Regions from separate parts of the Homo sapiens genome. Here region 2 is linked to region 1. The links come from fine-mapping of genetic effects on gene expression. A gene starts in region 1. The other region holds a variant in brackets. All regions are shown on one strand. Distances are between the middles of the regions. Region 1 holds the start of CPEB4 (cytoplasmic polyadenylation element binding protein 4). Region 2 holds the start of LOC107986482 (a long non-coding RNA gene).

Evidence for each region. PIP is the estimated chance that this variant, and not a neighbour inherited with it, causes the effect.
Region 2: its variant is fine-mapped to the expression of CPEB4 in whole blood (INTERVAL, PIP above 0.99).

The regions. Positions count from the first base shown.
Region 1 is chr5:173,885,254-173,893,588 of GRCh38, forward strand. It overlaps CPEB4 (cytoplasmic polyadenylation element binding protein 4), which reads left to right and starts at 3,096. Exons shown (of 10, transcript NM_030627.4): 1 at 3,096-5,605. The coding sequence starts at 4,481. RefSeq lists enhancers at 2,603-2,842, 4,867-5,368, 5,369-5,868 and a silencer at 5,373-5,667.
Region 2 is chr5:173,774,580-173,782,914 of GRCh38, forward strand. It overlaps LOC107986482 (a long non-coding RNA gene), which reads left to right and starts at 3,697. Exons shown (of 2, transcript XR_001743004.2): 1 at 3,697-3,862. RefSeq lists enhancers at 3,191-4,390, 4,147-4,441, 4,267-4,486, 7,617-7,761 and a cis regulatory region at 7,684-7,694. The variant G/A (reference allele first, on the strand shown) is at 3,736.

The DNA of each region.
Region 1 (8,335 bases):
ATGGTTACCATGGGAAGTTTCTGAGGCCAGAATGTTTTCAAGGAGCGCAGCCCTGGGCTCTGGGTATCCTGGGTTCCTGAGTAGGCAACTGATGCCAAAAAAAAAAAAGAAAAAAGAAAAGAAAATAATAGATTTCCCCCTTCCTTCTTCCATACTTCCAGTCCCTAAGCAAGAGTCTGATGTCTTAGTGATCATCCTAGCTGCAAACCATCCCAATCTACTGCCCACACCTGACTTAGCCTTAAAAGATTAGCCCGACTTGGCAGCACCTGACTGTGGCCCTGGGCGTCTCCACCTTTTATCAACCAAGACAAGTTCCTGGATTCCCTTGTGCACACAGCTGCTTCTAGGCAAAAGACACTTGTGAAGGAATTCCCTGCATTTAATGTGTTACAAAGGAAGTGACATTTTTGATCACCTCTGATATGGTTTGGCTCTGTGTCCCCACCCAACTCTTATCTCAAATTGTAATCCTTATGTGTAGACAGAGGGAGGTGATTGGATCAAGGGGGCAGTTTCCCCATGCTGTTCTCCTGATAGTGAGTTCTCATGAGCTCTGATGGTTTTATAAGTGTTTGACAGTTCTTCTTTCACTCTGGTCTCTCCTGCCGCCTTGTGAAGAAAGTGCTTGCTTCCCCTTCGCCTTCCGGCATGATTGTAAGTTTCCTGAGGCTTCCCCAGTCACGTGGAACTGTGAGTCAATTAAACCTCTTTCCTTTATAAATTACCCAGTCTTGGGCATTTCTTTATAGCAGTGTGAAAATGGACTAATAAAACTTTTTAGGAGTCCAGCACTTCACATGTATCCCATGTAATTTACAAACTTAGCAAGAGAGGAAATATCATTCACATTTTATCTAGAAGGAACCAAGGGCTTATAGAGGTGATGCCCAGTTTTGCACAGCTAGGAAGCAGCAGAGCTGGGATTCAAATTCAGGGCTGTTTGGTTCCAAAGGTGCTCTTTTTTCCAAGTCATGGCTGCCATTTTAGCCACTGATAATTAGTAGCTCTGAGGGACCCTAAACCATCTTCTGGGCATGGAACATTCATTTGTTCATTCAATAAATGTGTTCTGAGTTTTGAGTCTGCTCTGTGCCAGACCCTCTTCTGGCCACTGGGGACATAAAGATAAATCAGACACAACCTCTGCCCTTAAGAAACTAACCCACTGACAACCAGCAGTAATTAAAAGAGAGCAATCTACAAGACATTAGAGAGAGGGCCAGTCAAGGAAACCATTCTGGCGGAAAAGACACCTGACGGAACCAGCTAAGTTTCCAGGCATGTCCAGTTGTAGGGAATAAACAGCAGGTAAGACCCAATCTCTATGCTCAAAGAATCCATAGTAGAGTTACAGAGACAAGACTCATGCTCATGGCACAATGAAAGAGAATAAAATCACCGATTGAAGGCCCTCAGGTGTTCTACACGGAAGTGATGGAGGATTGACAGACTGAGGCAGAAGTTGAGACCATTAGAGGAAGGCTATGGAAATGAAATGGAAGCCACCTTTGTTCATACTATTTTTCATTAATCTTGGTATCTTTTTTTTCCCTCTAGTTGTGCCAGTTACTTCTGGCTCTACCCTGATTTCTTTGTTCATTTTTCTTCCTGCTAAAGGAAAATACTCACTTATTTAACATATTTAAAGCTGTGCTGAGAGCAAAGCATTATCCTAAGCCCTGATGGTGGTCATAGCGTTGGGAATGTACAAAGATAAACAGGACATTAAAGCCCTTGAGTACCAAACATAATGAAAAGTCTGATATGTGAGCTCCAAACCAAATGGCAAAAGGAAGGAAATAATTAATTCAGACTTGGAAACAGGAGTGAGGGGTGGGGGGTGGGTGACGGGTGGAAGGGGTGGCAGTGGGTTGGGGGGCTGTCACTCAGGGAAGACTTCATTGTTGCTGGTTTGTTCATTCACGTTTTCAGGATTCATTCACTGATGTCTCCTATCTACAATGTCTGCTCCTGAAAGAGCCCACGGTCCAGCACAGGTCTGGAAGACATAAACCATCACAATATAGTGTGAGAAACAAGCACGAGAGGTACACAGGGCCGTGGACGCTTATAAGAGAGAATTCAGAAGATGCTGTTGGTGGCTTTTGAACTGATTCCTAGAAATAAATAGGAATTTACCAAAGGAGAAGAGTGGAAAGGACATGTAAAAAGGCATTGAGAGTGTGTTTGGAGGGGGAAGAGGCACTAAGATATACCACCCATTAGGTAGAAAGGCTTGAATACCAGACTAACAAGTTTGGCCTTTATCTTCGAAATAATGGGCAACCATAGAAGAAATCGGAGCATGTGAGGGTCAAGATAAAATTTTAGTTTTGGAATTTTCCCTCTGGTATTGCGTGTAAGGTGTACTAGATCGGGATGATACGGGGGCATAGCCACAGACGCCTCAGCTGCATCTCTGCACCTGGGAGACTGCACCAGATGCGAGCCTAGCAGAATGGGAGAGTGGGAGGTGCGGGTGAGCGAATGGAAGGTTAAGGGAGAGTCCCTCGTGAGGTCTACATTCTGGGCAAGGGCAAACGCAGTTCTAGGCACCGCACAGCTGCTGGCAAGACCCGCCTCCCCTTCCAGATCCCTCTGGGGCGGAGCTCGGGCCAGAGCACGTGATGCTTGGAGCACCACCTTTACTGTGGGCACCCTTCTCATTCATCCGCGGTTTCACGGGCCGCCACTTCGATCTCCAACACCTTGACCGTATGCCTTCGTGAGCGAGGAATCCGTTCTCCTTGACACGTCCCTATTGCTCCTCCTGCAAAGCCCAGTTAGGGAAGAGAAATATCAAAGGAGTCCCTTGCCCACACAAAAGATGGCGACCTGCTGCGCTCACTCTGGGTGGGGGAAGCGGGTTCCAGGCGCCGGGCCTCACTAGGCGAGGCGCAGACGGAAGAGGCGTCTCTGGAGGTAACTTTTCGACCTTCCTGGGAGTAGCTCTGAAGCGAGGGGGCGTGGCCTCGCCTGAGTTCTAACAGATGATTGGTCTTCCGGCAGGTAGGTGGGGAATGAGTGCTACCCCCACCCCTCCCTCTTCGAACCGGAAGTGTCTCTGGGTCTTTCCAGCTGGTTGTCATTTCACTCGGCTCGGTCCTGAGGAGAAGGACTCAGCCGCGGCTGCGGGACCCGGGCACCGGGAGGCGGTGGCGGCGGCGGCGGCGGCAGCAGCGGCGACAGCAGAGGAGGAAGAGGAGGAAGAAGGAAAGAAAAAGAAGAACCAGGAGGAGTCCTCAACAACGACAGCGGGGACTGCGGGACCAGGGTAAAGCGGCGACGGCGGCGACGGCCCAGCAACCGTGAGGAGAAACAAAAGCCTTCTAAATTATAGTTTAAAAAAAAATTCTGGGGGAAAAGAGAGAGAAAGCCGAGGGGGGAGGCCCTTCTCCTTTAAAATAACTACGGTAGTGGGTTTTTCCTTTTTTTCCTCTTTTTTCCCTCTCTGCGGAGAATCGAACTGAGGGAACTGAACAAACCGCCCCTGGGTCCCATGAGGGAAAAAAACCCCGGAGCCGCAGAGAGGGGAAGAGGCAGAAACCGCAGGACCTTCCAGGTCGCCCCCTCGGTCCCCGCACCCCCAGGCCGCCCGCTCACCCTCGTCGAGTCTCGCTAATCCCTCCTGATCGCGACCCCCGCAAGAGGGAGAAACGGGTGTTTCCAACCCCTTTCATGGGGGAGAGGAAGCCGCGGGGAGCCCAGGAACAGCGACCGCAGCAAGATCTGCACCCGGAGCCTCAGGAACAGCCCCAGAGGCCAAAACTGCACCCTGCGAAAGAGCAGAAAACAGGACCAGGAACAGCAGAAACCTCCCTGCAATCATCTTTCCATTAGTCAATGCTGATTTCCTCTCCCGAAACCAGGAATTCACTTCCCACCCCAGATAACCTAATATAATCTATATATATAAATATATAATATATAATGTTCTTAAATTATTCCTGATTTTTTTTTAACCAAGCTGCCAAGAAAAGAACGTATTCCCCTCTTAGTCCTATTCTAATTTTTATGTGAGTGAATCTAAACTGCTGAGGAAAACCATATGTGATTGTTAAATTATATATATCTATATTTTTACTCCGCGCAAGGCTTATTCTTCTACATCCATAGATGCTTGAGAAGCTCTGTTTTTGTCATTCATGTACATTTTCCTTTGGAAAAAGAAAGCGCCTATTTTACTAACCAAAGACTTGATTTTTACCCTCTTCATTTTTATTCCCTCCTAAAAATAAGCCCAATTGGATCCAAGTCAATGTTTTAAGAGATTTTTTTAAGAGTTGTTTTTTCTTTCAGAGACCAGAATTCCAAATCAGAACAATTTAAGGTGATAAGCTGCGATCTTTGAGCTAGCTATAAATAAGACATTTCAAGCAAGCAAGCAAACAACTTAAATTTGGGGTAGAGGAAAAAAAAGGCGTGAGACATCAGGTTGTCATTTTTTATTGTGAGATTCTGCTCCTAAAGATAATAAATGGGGGATTACGGGTTTGGAGTGCTAGTGCAAAGCAATACTGGGAATAAATCTGCTTTTCCAGTCAGATTCCATCCACATCTGCAGCCTCCACACCATCACCAAAATGCCACCCCCAGCCCTGCTGCTTTTATAAATAATAACACAGCTGCCAATGGCAGCAGTGCTGGGTCAGCTTGGCTTTTTCCTGCTCCAGCTACCCATAACATTCAGGATGAGATCTTGGGGTCAGAAAAAGCAAAAAGTCAGCAACAGGAACAGCAAGACCCCTTAGAAAAGCAGCAGCTTTCCCCAAGTCCAGGTCAGGAAGCTGGAATACTGCCTGAAACAGAGAAGGCAAAATCAGAAGAAAATCAAGGGGACAATTCTTCGGAAAATGGCAATGGGAAGGAGAAAATAAGGATCGAATCTCCAGTGTTGACAGGGTTTGATTATCAAGAAGCCACTGGGCTAGGTACTTCAACCCAACCCTTGACATCTAGCGCATCGTCTCTTACTGGTTTCAGTAACTGGTCAGCAGCGATAGCGCCTTCCTCCTCTACAATAATCAATGAAGATGCAAGTTTCTTTCACCAGGGAGGGGTCCCTGCTGCTTCGGCTAATAACGGTGCTCTGTTGTTTCAAAATTTCCCCCATCATGTCAGCCCTGGCTTTGGAGGCAGCTTCTCTCCTCAGATCGGGCCTCTCTCACAGCACCACCCACATCACCCTCATTTCCAGCATCATCACAGCCAGCATCAGCAGCAAAGGAGGTCTCCTGCCAGTCCCCATCCCCCACCCTTCACACATAGAAATGCTGCTTTTAACCAGCTGCCTCATTTGGCGAATAATCTTAACAAACCCCCCTCTCCGTGGAGCAGCTACCAGAGTCCGTCACCAACACCCTCCTCTTCCTGGAGCCCGGGCGGTGGTGGATATGGTGGCTGGGGAGGTTCCCAAGGCCGAGATCACCGCAGAGGGCTGAATGGTGGAATAACGCCCCTGAACTCCATCTCGCCTTTGAAGAAAAATTTTGCAAGCAATCATATTCAGCTCCAGAAGTATGCTCGCCCCAGCTCTGCCTTTGCACCTAAATCCTGGATGGAAGATAGCTTGAACAGGGCTGACAACATTTTTCCTTTTCCGGTAAGATTATGTTCCATTAATAGATTAGGATGAATAAGGAAATAGCATGGTGTAATATCTATGTAACTAGAGTTTGAAGTGCCCGTATTCACATCAGAGCTTTTCTTAGAGAGAAAATGAATCAATAACCAGACTTTATTTTAGCAGGAGTGTAATTGGAACAAAATATTCAGCTGTTTCTTTGGCAGTTTTCTAAATTGTAGCCTTAATCTTGTCATAGATAATTATGAATACCTGGTAGCTGGTGATGTAGTAATTATTAACTATAATACCTTTCTTGCCTGACATGAGAATCAGGGTCAGTTTTTTCCCTATTTAGATGAGAATAAATAATATATAGATATAAATATATTTCATTGCAGAAACTATTGAATGTTTTCTGAAGTAACTATATAACTAAACAAATTTCTTTTGACACTATAAGGTAGTGATTCACTGAAAACCAGCTATTGAATTACAGTTTTCTCACTGGTTGGTTGCATTTTAAACCTGGAAACTCTCTGAACCTTGTAGGTCTGAACAGCCTGAATTGATGGACTTGGCAATTCCTCTTAAACCTCTGCAAATTTTGGCCTACCTTTCATCAGTAAGGACTATCTAGTGAGAGAAATGATCTAAATGTTTTCTTCATCCCCATTTATTTTTGAACACTGTGAAACTGTTCATCTCAGAGTGACTCTTTATGCCTTTCACCCGTTTGTTTATTTTCCAATGTTAACATTGAAGATGTAGATAATTAAACCATTCCTAAAAATAGATCCAGGCAAAGATCATTTGTCTTTCTTGCTACCAGAATATCTTTATTCTGGCAAGAGTCATTGATGTTTTTGAATTAATGAGCAGCAAGTTAGGTTGATATGAACTAGATAAAGGGAATTTCATAGGTGGTTGAACGTCAGATGCTCCACTAAATGTATATACTTTGAGGGTATGATTATATGTGTTTAGGAAATTTATAAGGGGTAAGAATCTAGCATTGAATCTAGTTTTCCCAACAACCTCACAAGATGAGTTCTGTTATTATCCCCATTTTACAGATGCAGAAATTGAATATGAGAAATATATAATAACTTAGCCAAGGGTACACAGCTGGTCAGAGTACAAATTCTAAGTTAAAAAAAAAAACAAACCCAAGGATTGAAAATATGTATACATACATGTGTGCACGTACACATGTGCTACAGCTAGAGGGTTACTTTAGAAATATTTCTGCAAAGGCTGAAACAGATTATAGAATCATTGCACTGTTCCCAAATACGATGTTAGCCCTAGCAGAATTATCTGTTTTAATTAGTAATTGACTGAGAGGGAGGGGAAGTTTGCTAAGAGAACCCTATGTCATTCCTTTCCTAAGGATTCAGGTGCAGTGCATCTTAAAATATGTGGGTATATTTAGTTTTCGACTTCTAAAAACGATTTTTTTTTTTTTTTGCCTATCAAAAAGCTGTTGGCATTTGCTTTAAAGGGTTTCAGTTGTTAAAACCAAAGATCAATTACTGTGCTTTAGTGGTCAAGTAAAAAGGCTGTTTAAGACATTGACAATCCCATGAAGTCTATTTTTAAAAAGTTGCCTTTGATATTCCTTTGAACATAAATTTAAAGAAAATTTAATGCAAAGATAAGTTTTATGAATTATTCTTATATTGCTAATTTAAAAATTGTAAGTTAACATTCAGTACATTTTAACTGGATTAAGATTTGGCTCAGAACTAAATACACCTTTTTTTCTTATTTTGCTACTATATGCTGACACAGTGAATTTATGTGGCCTCACAGTTTGGTTCCCATTCTCAGCTTACTGACTTTTGTTAAGATTGCTTTAGGAAAAATGAAAAGTTCAGACAATGAATAAAATATACATATATGCACATTAATATTTTTTCCTATTGGGCTAATAGAGTGTGTGTTATGTGTGAAATCTTTTTGAACAGTTTCTTTGGAGATTAAGTTGATTTATGAAATAATAGTTAGACTAAGATTGATACTAAAATATATTGTTAGAAACTAACTCTTCCCTTAGAACTGCTGTCTTTTATATTGATTATGGGAAAAGGATGGTCAGTGTACCTGACTTTCAAATATGGTAAGATTCAAAAGTAAATTGTTAATTCTGCTCCTCATCCCCACCATTTGTAGCTCTGTGTGTGTGTGTGTGTGTGTGTGTGTGTGTGTGTGTGTGAGAGAGAGAGAGAGAGAGCACACGCACACATGTATGAGGAGAGAGCTAGCAGTGGGGTGATTTGAAAGTCACAAGAGAAATAAATGATTTGAAAAAAATCTCTATGACAAGAAACTCCTAATTGGGTTTTGAAAAAGTCTAAAGAAGTAAGTAAACTGACCACTGTGATTCTTACTTAAATGGATACAGTTCTTTTTGCTTTTTAAAAACCAATAATTCTTGTGAATTAGTTATTTTTGAGAAAAAGTATCATTTTAAGTTGGTATAAGTAACTTGGTTAAATTTGTCTTATTTAAATTTATAACTTGCAGGCACGTGCCTGTAATCCCAGCTACTTGGGAGGCTGAGGCAGAAGGATTGCATGAGCCCAGGAGTTTGGGACCAACTTGGGCAACATAGTGAGACCCCCGTCTCAAAAAAAAATAATTTATAACTTAAACACTATTAATTTTAGGAAAGAAATTTTATAGATATTAGCACTTCAATTTAATTACTATTAAAATAATTCCTTTCTTCTGCAATATTTCTCACAGGGGAAAAAAAAAGAATAA
Region 2 (8,335 bases), 110 kb before region 1:
GGAGAAGGCAATGTCTGGGCCCCTTTTTGAAGAGGAGAGAGCAGGCAGCTGTGGCCTTCACCTTCCCAGCTCCCGCCCCTCCATTGCCCATAGCAACTGCCTGTCCCCATGCCCAGCTGCACGCGGTTTTGGTGGAATTTCTAATTATGGTGCCCTGCTAGACTGGCCAAGGGGCTGGCATGAGACCCAAGCTTGGCCACCATATACTTTCTTCCTGGAATCAGGATATTGGCCAGAGAAACCCAAGGGCATTGAATGGCTAGAGTCAGTTTTTCTAATGGAAGTGGAACAAAGCATGTTCTTTTGTTCTGGCATAATTTTTTGACTATCTCAACTCCCTAAGAAGCAATTGTTTCTCTCTCTTCCAAGGCCTATTTTTCAGCTTTTCCTTCCAAAGCCCTTTCAATACACCTCTATTTAATTCACCAGAGTGGGTTTCCAATGTTTGAAACCCCAATTAAAATAGAAACAGTATAATGTGAACAGGGATAAGAGAGTGTAGGTTTCTGATTCACTGTGCTCACCACTTTACATTAAATAAGCTGTGTGTCCCTCTCTCTCCTAGTTACAAGCAGGATGCTTTGCCAAGGCCTGACTGTGTCTTTTTCTCTTCATATCCACAGTGCCCAGCTCAGGGTTGACTTCTCCTCTGCACCTGCCATGGTTTATAATTATGCATTTCTTTGTGGGATAATTTGTTTAATGTCATCTACTCTATGTTGGAAGTCCCATGAAAATAGAATGCATGGAGCCCAATTTATTAGGAAGACCAACTGTCCCAATTTGCCTGGGGTGGGGTGGGGGATTTCTGAGACATGGCTTCCAGGGCTAAAATCAGGAAAGTCCAGGGCAAATTGGAGCAGTGCCCACCCTACCAGTGTCTGGCATATAGGAAGTCTTCAAGCACCAGTTGTCCCGGTCACTCAAGGAATATATGTTGAGATGAACGGAGGCAAACTGCAGCACAGCAGAAGGCATATTCTTTCATGCAAAAACATTTCTTCATGCCTGCTGTGTGCCAGGTAACCAGCTTGTCAGAAGCAGAAGATTCAAGGAAGGAAATCCCAGCAGCCAGGGCTGCCATAGGATTGTAGGTTGAAATCACACTGCATGAGGTCTTGAGCATCAGGCTAAGAAACCAGCATGCAGCACCCAGATGAGGCAGGTCCCCTCTGATTTAGGAGAAGGGAGGAGATATGAAAACATAGTAATTTAGGAATGATGCATTGGCAGCGCCTCCCAGGGACTCTGATAAGGAAACCACTGCAGGAGGAATCCGCAGGGGCTACTGAAACAGGGGACAGAACCTGAAGTGAGCGGGTTATTTGGTTGTTTCTTTCCAAATTCTGCACTGGGCAGAGAGAGGGTTTAGCAACTTCCTTTTTCGTCTCAAGCACAGCCATCTGCTCAGTTCAACAAGCAGAAAATCCACCCCCAGGAAACGTGAATTTATTTGTGGGTATGTGATGGATCCTACGTCTTTACTCCTTAGGAAGATTCAGCTACACAACCCATGCCACGGGGCCATCCTCTTGATAGGTTTCAACTCTGTTGCTGAGCGGATGAGAACACGTTTATGTGCAGGTGCTATCGACAGTGTTTTTGTCTGCCTGCCCCCAACCCAGTCTTATATTGAAAGTGAACCCCCAGGCAATGGTATTAGTAGGGAGGCCTTTGGGAGGTGATTAGGTCATGAGGGTGGAGCCCCATTGATGAGATTAGTGCCCTTAGAAAGAGACCCCAGAGAGCTGCCTGGCCTCTTCTGCCATGTGAGGGCACAGCAAGAAGGAGCTGTCTGTGAACCACAAAGCAGACCCTCGTCAGATTCCAAACTGCCAGTGACTGATCTTCAACTTCCAGCCTCCAAAACTGCGAGGAATAAATTTCTGTAGTTTATAAGCCACCCAGTCTATGGTATTCTGCTATGGCAGCCTGGAATGACCAAGACAGCAGCCAAATGAACTTTTGGATGGGGCCTCGCAGACTTTCAGGGCCTGGAGATCCTCTGAGAAGAACATCTCTCTAATTCGGCTCCCTCATTTCAAAGCAGGGAAAGAATCTTATTTGCATGATATAATAAGCAAGAAGCTGGGGCTGGGCTGCTCTCTCTTTAACTCTTCTCAATAAAGAACTGAATCATACAATAGGGAGCCCCTTGCCCCTGGGGAGTAGGGGAAAGTGAAAAGACAGGGAAACAAATAGATTGCATCCTGTGGTAAGAGAGTTTTTCTCCTGTGAAAATTCTCTTTCAATCCTTGTCATTACACCAAGAAGAAAATCTCACTTTGGTACTAATAGGTCTTTAACGCCTCCCTCAAACTTTAACACCTCTCCAAATCTCCCTTTCAAATGGGAATCAAACAGGCCTCAAGCCCAGAGTCTTCCACAGGCAACCCTATTCCTCTAGAATTAAATATTCTAGAGTTTCATAATATCATTTTATTTTCGTGGTATATCTTTTTCTGGATAGCTTCTATTTGTAGCAGGTGGGATTGGCTTTCCATCTATGGTAGTAAGTTTTCCTTTTGAAGAAATGTATTTTAAGTTTTAAATGGGAGACAAGTTGAGGAAAAATAATGAGGGAAAGACTAGACCACATGATATGCAGTGATAGCAAAATTATCGGTAGACCTTAAACCATTGAAGTTTGAAAGCAGGAGTGGAGGACAGAGGGATGGGCTGGTGACCCTGGGGCCGCTCACCAGAGCAGGCTCCACACATGTTATTAAGCAAATGTCAAGCCTGAAATTTAAAAGGTGGCTCTTTAAATGAATTAGAGTCAGAGACACTGGAAAGTGCCAGGAAATTCTTCACGTGACCTTGAACAGACAGAAACCTCCTGAGATGAGAGAGTACAGGTCTATTATTTGACTTGGCAAAGGACCCTTCTGGTGGATAGGGGTGTCCCTTCTCTAAAAAATGATGTGCAGTGCATTTCTGTATGTTTCCTGTGAATAACCACTGAGGCACCAGCAAGGGGAGTCATGGGGGTAGAAGGACAGCCGCGGTAGCCATCACCCATTGAGACCCTGCTCAGCTCTGCCTGTGCTGCCAGGAGCCTCACCTCACCCTTTCAACAGCCCTTTCATGCTGATGCTAGTAACCTCTGACGCTTATGGAGCACACACTGTATGCCAACATCTCTTCAAAGCCTTCATTCATTCATTTAATCCAAACAGTAACCCAAGGAGACCATCATTATTACTCCCACTTTACAGATCAGAAAACTGAGGTGGAAAGGGTAGGTCACAGCTGGTGGTCAGTGGTAGAGGCAGATTCAAGCCCAGACATTCCGGCTCCAGAGCCTACACTCCAACTTTGTGGAGGGGAGTGACAGAGGAGGATGCACAGCTACTAAATTGTAAAGTCAGCAAAACCATCCTCCCCAAGGTGGCATTTCCCCCAAAAGCAAGCTATTGCATTAATTCAACAAATGTTTGTTGAGCATCTACTATGTGGGAAAGACCCTCTTTTTGTTCCAGTCATCGGCAGCTGGGGGCTCTAGGTCCATCCCTGCCCTCCCCGAAGCAGGAGAGTAACCTTGTAGACTTCCTGTTAGGGCCCTGGGGTCTCTGGGTGAATTTGATGCAGACTCAGCCATTAGCCTGGCTGGGCCACAAAATCAGGAAGCTTAGACCAGTGTTGTGGAACCTTGATTCCTGTCCCAGTTTTGTCATTTCCTGCCTCAGCCTCTTTGCAACTCCCGGCCTCAATTGCCTCACCTCCAAAATGGAG[G/A]TCTTAATGACAATGGTCTGGCTTCACTCACAGGGTTATCGTGAAAATCAAAAGAGATTGCTCAGGGAAAAGCCTCTTCAAACTGGAGCTCCAGGTGATGGTTGTCATCTGTCGATGTTGCTCTCTGGTGAGTTCTTTAAAAATGGAAATTACTGTTTGTTTCTAATTACAAAAGTTCAGGAGTTACAGAATAGCACACAGATTTTTAAACACGGTTTATTACCCCACTACTTGTTAATAATCTCTACTAACCTGTTGGTGTATTTCCTTCCGGATACATAAAGAGAGTTGAACCCTGAACGATATGGAAGTTGGGGTGTTGACCCCCCTCAGAGTTGAAAATCTGCATACAACTTTTGACTCCCCAAAACACTACAGATAGCCTACTGTTGACTGCAAGCCTTGCTGAGAACATAAACAGTCAATTAACATATTTTGTATGTTATATGTATTGTATACTGTATTCTTACAATAAAGGAAGCTAGAGTAAAGAAAATGTTATTGAGAAAATCATAAGGAAGAGAAAGTATATTTACGTTCACTACGCAGAAGTGACTCAGCATAAAGGTCTTCACCCTTGTCATCATCAACTCGAGTAGGCTGAGGAGGAGGAAAAGGAGTGGTTGGTCCTGCTCTCTCAGGGGTGGCAGAGGTGGAAGAAAAGTCACCTGTAAGTGGACCTGTGCAGTTCAAACCTGTGTTGTTTGAAGGTCAACTGTATGATGATTGCCTACATAGAACCCGGTAGCTTTCTACAGCACTTGGAAGGAAATCCACACTCCTTATCAACACTTCACCTTGACTTTCAGTCTGTGTGATCTGGCCCTGCTTGCCTCTCCTACCTCTTCTCTCTCTACTCACACATTATTTCTCTTTCTTTTTCCCTCCTAATACACCAATGGCATTTCCCCTCAAGGCCTTCGCCTCTTTGCCTGAAATGCTCTGGATTTCATGACTCTGGAAATCATGACTGGATTTTTTTTTTTTCAGCGTGCAAGTCATGGCCGAAATGTCACCTCCTTGGATAGTCCCTCCATCTTCACGCACACTAAACTAGTCCATCTTGCATGCCTTTCTTCATGGCATTGTGTGCCATGCTCAGAAATTATCTTGTGTATTCTTAAGTCCATATATGTATTACCTGTCTTTCCCTAAACAACTTCCCACCCTGAGCTTGTTCCTGTCCATATTCCCAGTACCCAGAATGGTGCTTGGCATACAGCACATCTTCATTACATAGTTAATAAGTGAATGAATTGGATTAATGTACTTGTGAGCTAGGATCATACTATATTTAATGTTTTTATAACTGATTTTTCCCTGCTATGGTGTGACCACCTTGACTTTGAATGGAAGTGTAGCATTCCCTTGTATGGGTGGATCAAAATTTCTTTTCTTTTCTTTTTTTTTTTTTTTTTGAGACTGAATCTCACTCTATCACCCAGGCTGGAGTGCAGTGGCACGATCTCTGCTCACTGCAACCTCTGCCTCCCAGGTTCAAGTGATTCTTGTGCCTCAGCCTCCTGAATAGCTGGGATTATAGGCACACACCATCATGCCAGGCTAATTTTTGTAGAGACGGGGTTTCACCATATTGGCTCGAATTCCTGACCTCAGGTGATCTGCCTGCCTCAGCCTCCAAAAGTGCTGGGATTACAGCCATGAGCCACTGCACCCGGCCTGGATCATAATTTTTAACTAAGCCCCCATTACTGACTAGGTGGGACATTTCTGATTCTTGTGTTTGTAAGTTAATACTACATTCTACAGTGACCATCTTTGTCCATACACACATTTTCTCATCTCTCCATGACCACTTCCCTTGGATTAATTCCTAGCAGTAAAATTGAGGGAACAAAGGGTTACATCGTTTTAATCCTCTTCATATATATTACCATGGTCTGCAGAAAGGTTGTATCATCTCTGAGTTTGCTGTAATGGCCCTTAGCTTGTGGGCTTCTCAGCAGAATGCTCTGAAGACCATGGAAATATCATTGTCTCCTCTTACCCAGGAGAGTAAAGGTTGAGGCCCTCCAGCAAGACAGATCATGCCCACTTACTCTGCAGAAACTTCCTCCCTTTCCAATAACAGGAACAACTCCTAGCTCTGCTGCTCAGGCCCAATGTGTGATACACAGGAATCCCCTAAGCAGTGATGTTCCGAAGTTAGAAGTCACCCCAGCCAGGCTGAAGAGCTTATCATTCAAGAAGCTAATACCAGCCAGCCAGACTGTGCCAGCTCAACCTTCCTCCTTTTGTTCTCCAAAGCACACCTTGCCTTGGTTACCTGACCTTCACTAAGCTCAGCCCATATTTGGCCAAACCATCTGGGCCTCTGCTCAACGTGCCTTTGCTTTGTTACCTGTTCCACATCATTTTTCAAGGTCTAGCTTTACTCCCCACCTAAACTTTCACCTTCTAGAAAGCCCCTTTTCATAGTACAGCTCTCAGGGAGATCTCCCAGCCCAGAACTGCCCATAACTCTGATTACCAGCCTCTCCGTCAGCATTTGCCCATCTAACCACTTTGTGTTGTTTATATACCTTTGTGCATGAGTAACTCTAAATTTTCAACTGAGTGTTTTTCTCTCTCTGGGAGCTCACGCATAGTGTGACAGTCAGAACCTTTGAGATAATCAGGGCTGGGATTGAGCCTCAACTCTGCCACCCACTAGTTCTGTGCATTTGGGCAGCACAGTCAACTCTACTGAGCCTCAGTTGCTCCATCTATAAAATGGGGGTTACTATAGCACGAATTTGAAAAGATTGCTCCAAGAATTCGATGCATGCAAAATACTTAGCATAGTGCCTCCCACAGAATGATTATTAAAAAATCAGCAGCAGGCCGGGAGCGGTGGCTCATGCCTGCAATCCCAGCACTTTGGGAGGCTGAGGCGGGCAGATTGCCTAAGCTCAGGAGTTCGTGATTAGCTTTGGCAACATGGTGAAACATCGTCTCTACTAAAATACAAAAAATTAGCCACCCGAGATGGTGTGCCCCTGTGGTCCCAGCTATTTGGGAGGCTGAGGCAGGAGAATTGCTTGAACCCGAGACGTGGAGCTTGCAGTGAGCCGAGATGGCACCACTGCACTTCAGCCTCGGTGACAGAGTGAAACTCCGTCTTAAAAAACAAAAACAAAAACAAAAAACAGCAACAAAATGGGGATATTCATCCTAATTTTGTTTTTCTAGACCTCTACAAAGGCTGAGCCAGTAATGTGTACAATGTTAAAAGAAATATTTGTGGAATGGAATGAGCGGATGTTGTGTAAACATTCATTGTGCGTGTACGTATTTAGTTCTACTAACCAGAACACTGGGGGACCAGAACCAGTTACCCCAGTGTCTAGAGAGGAGGAAAGAAATCTCTCTCCTTAGCTGAAACCTTAGTAAGAGCTCAGTCCAGAGCTTGCTTGAAAGTAAAGATATGTCATCCAATTTAATCCCCACACCAACCTTACAGAAAGATCTTTTTATATCCTTATGCTAAGAAGACCTACCACTGACTGTGCCAGATCTGTGCAAGATGCTTTTGAAAAATGTAATTCCCTTTAAGCCCTCACACTATCTCAATGAGACAAGAATTATTATTACTGAAGAGGAAATGGGGTCAGAAAGTTTAAGTGAACTGCTCAAGGGCAAATGGGTAGTAAGAGAAGAAAGAAGATGAGTCAGGATTGAACAGAGGCTTACTCTGTTCAAATAAATAAAATTAAATTAAAACGGTTGCCTCTTCACCAACTGATTCCCTGACATTCTCACATGCGTTCAGTTGGTGCTTAATAGGAACTGAATTGAAATCTCATGGTGATCTGTTAGAGACTTGGATCTTCTAATAGATGCTTCAAAGGGAGCAGTTTCTATTTCCGGTGCCCACGGAGATCTCGAGGGAGATTTCTCCCCACCCCTGCTCTGACGTCACGATGTTCTTGTTTTTCTCTGGGCCCTGTGACTCAGCACATGGCTCCAGATGGCTTCCTGCATTTCCAGCCTGTTGGCTGGGGTGCCCAGGCCCTGGTAAAGTAAGCAAACCAAAACTAAGTTGCAACAAAGCATCAACACCTCCCTGCCCCTGCCCTCTGTTATGAAGTCTTTGTAGTCCACTACTCATGATGGCCAGTCCCTCCATTTCTCCCCTCCCTCCTTGCCCTGAGATCCCCACACTTGGCCCCAGCACATCTGATGCCTGAAGATGAGATCCAGGAGTGATCATTCTCCCAGCAACCAGTGAATGGGCAAAGGGGCAGTTCTTTCACCCTTTGATCCTTTATTGACTTTAGGCAATTTACTTTCTCAGCCTCAGTGATCAAATGGGGACGCTAATATTGTCTACTTCTGAGGGTTGTAGAGTTAGGGTTGCCAGATAAAATACAGAAAGTCCAGTTACATTTGAATGTCAGATAAATGATGATTTTTTTCAGTACGCATGTCCCAAATATTGCTCAAATTTAACTGTGTGTCTCATGACTTTATTTGTTAAATCTGGCAACCTTATGTGGAGTGTGGAGTCAGATAACAAACGCAAAAATGCTTTGTCACCTACAGAAAGCTGTACACTTCATGATATCTTTTCCATGAGACGTATGCATGTGTACCCATG